Homo sapiens: one gene and its partner. The protein of the gene in region 1 purifies or fractionates together with the protein of each later gene. This does not show direct contact. Each region holds a gene or a part of one and is shown on either strand. Other genes may lie near its edges.

Region 1 (3,500 bases):
GCTCTGTGTATTGCAAGGCCCACCCCAGCCCTGGGGTCTTGGGAGCCCTCTCAGTGACTCAGGTACCAACCTAGTCCCAACCCCAGAGGCCACTCTCCCCGCGGACACTGGCCATGGCACGATCCGGGTTAATTTCCCGAGCTGTGCCTTCCCCGCTGACCGGCCTCTTCCTAAATTTGACCAATCCTCCATCAGCCCTCCGGGGGCCTTGGCAGCTGCACCCCTTTCTGCGTGACTGAGCTAGCGGAGCCACATTCCGCATTCATTCATTCGTTCCCTAATTCATTCATTCCGCGAACATGCAGAGGCCATGCACGTTGGTGCTGTCTGTCCTCAAGAGTCCTCAGGCCAGGAGGAGAGACACCAGGTGGACAGTGATGATAACCCATGTGATTGCAAGACCCTGGAGACGCTTTCTCAAGAGCTGGGGGTCCCGGAGCAGGAGGCAGGGGCGACCTCGCACCAGGAACTGAGGGATGGAGGAGAAGAGCTTGCAGGGCTAAGGCAGGGAAACCCTGCCAGGCAAGCAGGGGGAACGGCGTGTGCCCAGGCAGAGGAGCAGGGGAGGAGGAATGGCATGGCTGGGCTGTGGCATCAGGGCTGGGAAGGGGCCGGAGCTGAGGTCTCCGGGCTCAGTGACTTGATTCGCAGAAGAGGCAGCTCCTGCGGGGCCCCCACATGGCCGTCTGGGAATGGTCAGCCTGGATGCTGTACATGTACATGTGGGGACCCCCAGGAGCACCCAGGCCCCACCGTGCTCCCTAGGCTCACTCTGGCCACACGCTTCACACTGCGTCCCCTGGGGAGGACACAGAGGCCACGGCCACCTCTCCCCAGCAGCTCCCAGGCCAGGCTCAGGCTGCTGAGGACAAGACAGCTGAGGTGGGGCCACCTCTCTCTCTTTCCCCTGGGGTGAGCCCCGGAGCCTTGACAGGATTCCACTTCAAGCTGAGCCAGCACCACAGGGGCTGAGGCTGAGGATGGTGCAGGCATGGCCACCTTTTTAACAAGTCTCTTCCCCGTATTAGCACCCGGGCTGCTTGTCCCTAAAGGGAGAGGCAGTCCCTAGCAGCCCACGCAGGTCGTCCGAGCCCCTCTGGGTGGAACGAGGGCTCTCACAGTCGCCAAGCAGGAAAGGGGGCTCTGTGAGCCATGGGAACCGGCTCCTTGGTGACCGTCTGGCTGGGTGGGTGGGGCCGGGCCCAGGGCCAAGCAGAGGGGCCCTTGTGTGAGCCCCCAGGGACTTCTCGCTGAACGGGCAGAGAGACCCCAGTCTCCAGTTGAGCTCAGCTTTCTCCCGCAGCGCCCATGCCTGGGCCAAAGTGTGTGGCTGTTTGCATTTTTGAGCTACGGGGTGGGGGATATTCGGGCTGAGTCAGTCAAGCCGGGAGTGTGAGGAGCAGCGGGGGCCGGCAGGAACGTGGACGCGAGATTGGGGAGCAGTGGGGCTGCCTGTGCGGGGATGCAGCTCCCACCAAGCACACGGGTCGAGGGCTGACCACAGGCAGAGCAGCGCCTTCTGGCAGCGCTGCGGGTGTGGATGAGGGAAGCCAGGCCCCGGACCCATACCCAGACGGCCGCTCCTCAGCCTGTCCCCTCCCTCCTGTGGGCTCTCAAAGTGCGGCTTGGTTTCTCCATCTCGACCCTGAGGCCTGGAGGTGGGGACGGGACTGTGGGCGCCGGCAAACGTGAGCTCCCGAGCGGGGCGGGAAAGGAGCCCCGCGAATGCCTCCCCCAGCCCCGGCGCTCCACGTGCAGGCCCATGACTGGGAGCGTTTTCAACCTAAATCGGCACTGCGCCGGGATTATTCCTCCCCTGGCGCCGCCCCCGCCGCCTCCTCCGGATCCTTCCCGGCTTCTCCCCCACTCTTCGCCCCCGGGGCCCCTCCCTGCTGAGCGGGGGCTGCCGGGATTTGGGATTGCGGGGCTGCCCCGACCCCGCAGCCGTCCGCGGTGGAAGCCAGCCCGGGCCTGGCCCTGAGCGCGCGGCTGGGGCGGCCGCTGTCCATGGTGCTGGCGCGGGTGGCGCGCCGGCCGGCGGGGTCTGCGGAGGCCCAGGCGTCCCTGGCGGGGAAGGCGGCGCTTCCGGGTCTGGGGAGCGAGGGTCCCCGCTCTAGGGGCACGGAGGATATTTAGACTGGGGCGCCCGTGGGCCTGGTGCTGCCGCCTCGGGCGCCGGCATCCTGCGATATCCCCTCTCCCCGGCTCTGGGAGGGAACCGAGGCAGCCCCGCGCCAGGCCTCCCCGGACACCTGGGGCAAATTCGCTCCTCAGAGCCTCGTGTTCCTTCCCCAAACCTGAGGTAGCGACCCCTCCACCCCTAAGGGCGGCCGTGAGGTCGAATCATGTGCCGACCCCAGCCGGCCCTTGCAAACGTTGTGATGTCGGCCTCCGGAGGCCGCGCCTTCTGATCATGGGCACATGATGGGGGTCACCGGCTGTGGGTGCCTCCTCTGTGGAGGGCCCGGCCTCACCTTCCAGGACCCGAATGATACTCTGGGGAGGGGGAGATGGTACAGAGGGTGGAGCTGGGGCTCCTGCCATTAGGGCAGGAAGGACTTTAAACCCAAAGCTGGGTTCTCAGCCACGAGGGCCACGTGTTCTGGCGAGACCCCTGGTCCCGGCTCCGGTCTACACCCCCTCCCCAGATGTGGACCGGTGGCAAGGCTGGCCCTGTCTGGGGCTTGGAAGCCAGTGTGGGGACCTGCTGCTGGGAAGAGCGGGGCAGGACCTCCCACTGCCTCCCTGCCTCCCTGCCTCCCCTCCCCCCTGACCAGATTATGGGGAATGGGCTGCGGGCCTTGGGGTTGCAGTGCCGTCCGAGACCCCGCCACTCTCTGTGGTGGAGCAGGCCAGGCCCTGTAGCCCCAGAAGGGACACTCAGCCAAAAAGATGTGAGCCATCCTCTTCCTGAGAGTCTGCATATTGCAGGGCCCACCCCAAGCGTTGGAATCTTCGTGGGAGACTCTCAGACACCCCCTTGGTGGCTCCAAGAGACCTTCCAGTGAGGCTGTGGCAGGAGGGGGCAGGGTGGGCTGGGAGAGGCTTTGGCCCCTCCTCTGAGATTTTGGGGCAGGAAGGCAGGACCTGCATGAGGCTCCAGGCTTAGTCCTGGAGTCACCTAAGACCGGGGAAGATGCATCTTGCTTTGCCCTGGAGTGTGGCCGTGGGGCTCAGACATCACTCTCCCAGACCTTGCTATGAGCCACGCACTGAGCTCGTTCACTTTGCAATGCCCCAAGGGAGCAGGTACCGTCACCTCCCCAGGCTTCAAGGTGAGGAAATTGAGGCTCAGAGAAGGGAAGTGGCTTGCCAAGACCACAGAGCCAGGGTGGGGCCCATTTCAAGTCCAGGGCGTGTGACCCCAGGGGCTCTACCTCCTCCCCGGATGTCGGGGTGGGGGCGGCAGGAGATCCGAACTGTGGAGCAGATGGTGGCACAGTGAGGGTCCCACCTCTGCTTCTTTCCGTGGCTGTGCCCAGTGCCCCCTGCCACCCACT
Region 2 (3,500 bases), on another chromosome or scaffold:
CCACTGAGCAGAAAAGCAGGGCCATAACTGATATCAGAAAATACCAATTGTGAACTAACTACTGTTATGTTACGAGTTCCTCATATGTATTCAGATTGCTCCCAAATAAGTGACATTGCACATGCATTTTAAAAAATAAATTTCAGAAACTGCTACAAAAATGATAGAAACATTGACTAAAAATCAGGGTAAAGAGATTAAACCAAAGAGAAAATAGTCAATGAGTGGATATTTTAGGAATACACTCTAGAGCATGGAGACTCAAGTGTGCAGGTTGAGGAGAGCACTTAGGATGTAAGCTTTCGAGTCATTCATTCATTCGTTCATTCAGTGAATACCTGTTGAATGCCTGTATGTGTCAGGCACTGTGCTGAGCTCTGGGTCTGAGTCTCAGCTCTCCCCCTTTCTCACTGTGTGGATGGGCTAAGTGATTTCCTCTCTTCTCCCCCAGTCTCGACCTTTGCAACCTGAGGATTAATCCTGACTCACAGCGTGGTTGTGAAGATTAAATGACAAAACAAATATAAGATCATTAGCATAGTGTCTGGCACATACTAGTTGCACAATAAATGATAGCCACTGTTGCAGGATTTAGGTGGCTGAGATGGTACAAAAGAAAATCACCAATGTCAGTGGGAGGAACAGGTTGTTTTAGTGTTTTAAAGTGAAATGATGGGTAGAGTCTAAAAGAGGAAAGATTATAGTTAAATGTTAGTTTTTTTCTAGAAGCTTCAGGTGGCAAAATTGTATTCAAGAGGGCATATTTTGTTAAAATAGTCCAAGGGTAGAAGTGATAAGGAGACAGAAGTTCTGTGGACCTAAAATGTAGAGAATATTTGGGGAGAATTCTCTTTAGGGCAGCACACCCAGGAAGTGCTCAATAAAAGCTTAGTGACTGAATGGTAAATAGATACCATTTGTGGAGAGAGTCATTTAGGCTGGAGCTTCCCAAACCTGGCATACATCAGGATCATCTAAGCCCTGTAGTCGACCTACAAAATAGACTTCTTGGAATAGTGTCTGGGGAGTCTTGAAATGCTGAAAGTTCTCAGGTAATTCTGAGACACAGCCAGCTTCATCAAAAGCTAATGACCAGTGAGAGGAAGGCAAGTTTCTAGTCCTGAAATTGTGAAAGAAGAATGAAATGGAGATAAAAGAAGGAAAATGGGATATAGAGAGGTCATTTTTGGATGTATTTCTGGAGAAGTTAGGGAGGCAACAACAGAGTGGTAGAAGTGGATTGCTGACAAAATCCAGGGATTTTAGTGGCTTGAACTCCTCTCTGTAAACTCTAATTTGGGGGAACTCAGGAGAGAGAAGGTCAGAGACAGAGAAAACAAGAATTTAAATGTGTTAGCAAATTCAGAAATAGAGACCAGCTCTATTAGTATAGCTCGGCCCCAGTGGGTTATACCTCTAGTGGATTTATTGATATAAAAAGAATAGGAATTGGGGACATGTATTTGAAATAAAAATCCGCAGCCTAAACTTTGTTAGTTCTCTTTTCCAAAACTCATCACTCCTTTCAGCAAGCTTGTATTCATTGGCAATGTGAATATGCATTATGCTGAATTGGATGCCCTGTTTTATTATAGCAGGATTGAGGAAGTCAGTAAAACTACAGCTAAGAGTCAATATTTTTCTCCCCTGTGTTACCATGATTTTCGCGTTCTACTGACCCCACTCCCCTTAAGATATTTAATACTGAGATGATAACATTTGCTTTCATATGCCTTAATAATTGTTTACTGAAAGCATAAAATACTTCAAGTAGCCTTCTGAGGGGAGATGGGAGAAGTGATTCCATCTGGGGACAAACCCTGGGTCTGACAGCAGCTCTTCCTCACAGGTGAGACCCTCCCTTCCAGCCCTTCGGCTGGTTGGATGTGAGCTGGCAAACCTAATTCATAAAAGCTGAACTACTCTTTGTCTCACTTCTAATTTGTGAAAAGAGGCCATTTGAATATTTATTTTTTTCCTTGTATTGCTAAAGGACCATTTTAATGACAAGATTCTGAATCAACTACCAAACAGTTACCATTCTCCTCCACAAGAAGTCACTCAAACTTTTGTTCTGTGTTTAGAACTGTGAGTGTAGGCTCTCTTCTTCAGTCTCTTACGTAGTTAATAATAACATTGTTCATCCGAAGCCCACTCCAAGCACAAACATCATTTAGCCTTTGAGTTGCTCCCTTTGATGGAGAAGAGGAATAATATTTACCTAATAAAGATCCTCATAATCTCTGCCATCATCCTCAGTCAATTTTCTTTTAGAGAAAATGCTTCAGCTTTGAAGACTCTCCTGTTTTCATGTCCAATTGTTTTCTCGTGTAGAGCACAATGAGCTACAACAGAAACTGGAAAAGAAAGAACGAGAATGTGATGCTAAGACTCAAGAGAAGGAAGAGATGATGCAGACCTTAAATAAAATGAAAGAGAAACTTGAAAAGGAGACTACTGAGCATAAGCAAGTCAAGCAGCAGGTGGCGGACCTCACAGCACAGCTCCATGAGCTCAGCAGGGTGAGGTCTTCCGCTCAGCTCACGGGCAGCTGCCAAGGCCTCACTGACCCTAGAGCCCCTCACCCTTAAGTAGAGAACTTCATACTGGGGGAATAAAATCTGAAATGGCTCATGATTCATCACAATTAGGAGACTCACTCCCTCTGCTATCATGTAGGCAGCAGAGGCTGTTTGGGGGTGCATTTTTAAATACTGTACAAATCTAAGAGCAAAGGAAATTGCATTAGCTTCTTAAAGTGAAAACTGACTTCATGAAAACCAGACTGTCTGTGATGGTGCAAGAAGTGAGAGAGATATGAATGCATCCCAGACAAGTACTTGAGTGTCAGGTACAAAAGGTTGATGCACTGGAGTCCATAAAGGCCCAAAAGAGTCCATTCGACTTTACCGATCCTTTAAACATTCTCAGAAGGGTGAATTTCTCTATAATAAACATTTTAGGCCAAGTTACAGACTCTTAAATCATTCAATGAATTTACTTCTTCCATTGATCTTTCTTTTCCTATTTTTATCTTTTCAGAGGGCCGTCTGTGCTTCAATCCCAGGTGGACCCTCGCCTGGAGCACCAGGAGGGCCCTTTCCTTCCTCTGTGCCTGGATCTCTCCTTCCTCCCCCACCACCCCCACCTCTACCAGGTGGGATGCTTCCCCCTCCACCGCCTCCCCTCCCTCCAGGTGGCCCTCCTCCTCCCCCAGGGCCTCCTCCCTTAGGGGCAATCATGCCACCTCCTGGTGCTCCAATGGGCCTAGCACTGAAGAAGAAAAGCATTCCTCAGCCCACAAATGCCCTGAAATCCTTCAACTGGTCTAAACTGCCCGAGGTGAGCCATTTGTTCCAGTTTTCCCTTTAATGGATAGCATTAGCAGCTCATTGTGTTATCACTGAAAGGGAAAACAGCCCTGGCTGTTAAATGATTTCATTTTCTAATGTGGACCAAGAGTTCTCACTAGCTCAGATATTTAAGTGATAAAGCTTCTG

What was found.
Region 2: the proteins of FBXL16 (region 1) and DAAM1 purify together in Homo sapiens (co-immunoprecipitation; 3 studies listed by BioGRID and IntAct, with this or other methods). This does not show direct contact.

The regions. Positions count from the first base shown.
Region 1 is NC_000016.10:699,302-702,801, reverse strand, and holds part of FBXL16 (F-box/LRR-repeat protein 16), read left to right. Parts: intron 1-3,500. UniProt on the Homo sapiens protein: Substrate-recognition component of the SCF (SKP1-CUL1-F-box protein)-type E3 ubiquitin ligase complex.
Region 2 is NC_000014.9:59,328,167-59,331,666, forward strand, and holds part of DAAM1 (disheveled-associated activator of morphogenesis 1), read left to right. Parts: intron 1-2,334; coding exon 2,335-2,522; intron 2,523-3,042; coding exon 3,043-3,342; intron 3,343-3,500. UniProt on the Homo sapiens protein: Binds to disheveled (Dvl) and Rho, and mediates Wnt-induced Dvl-Rho complex formation. May play a role as a scaffolding protein to recruit Rho-GDP and Rho-GEF, thereby enhancing Rho-GTP formation. Can direct nucleation and elongation of new actin filaments.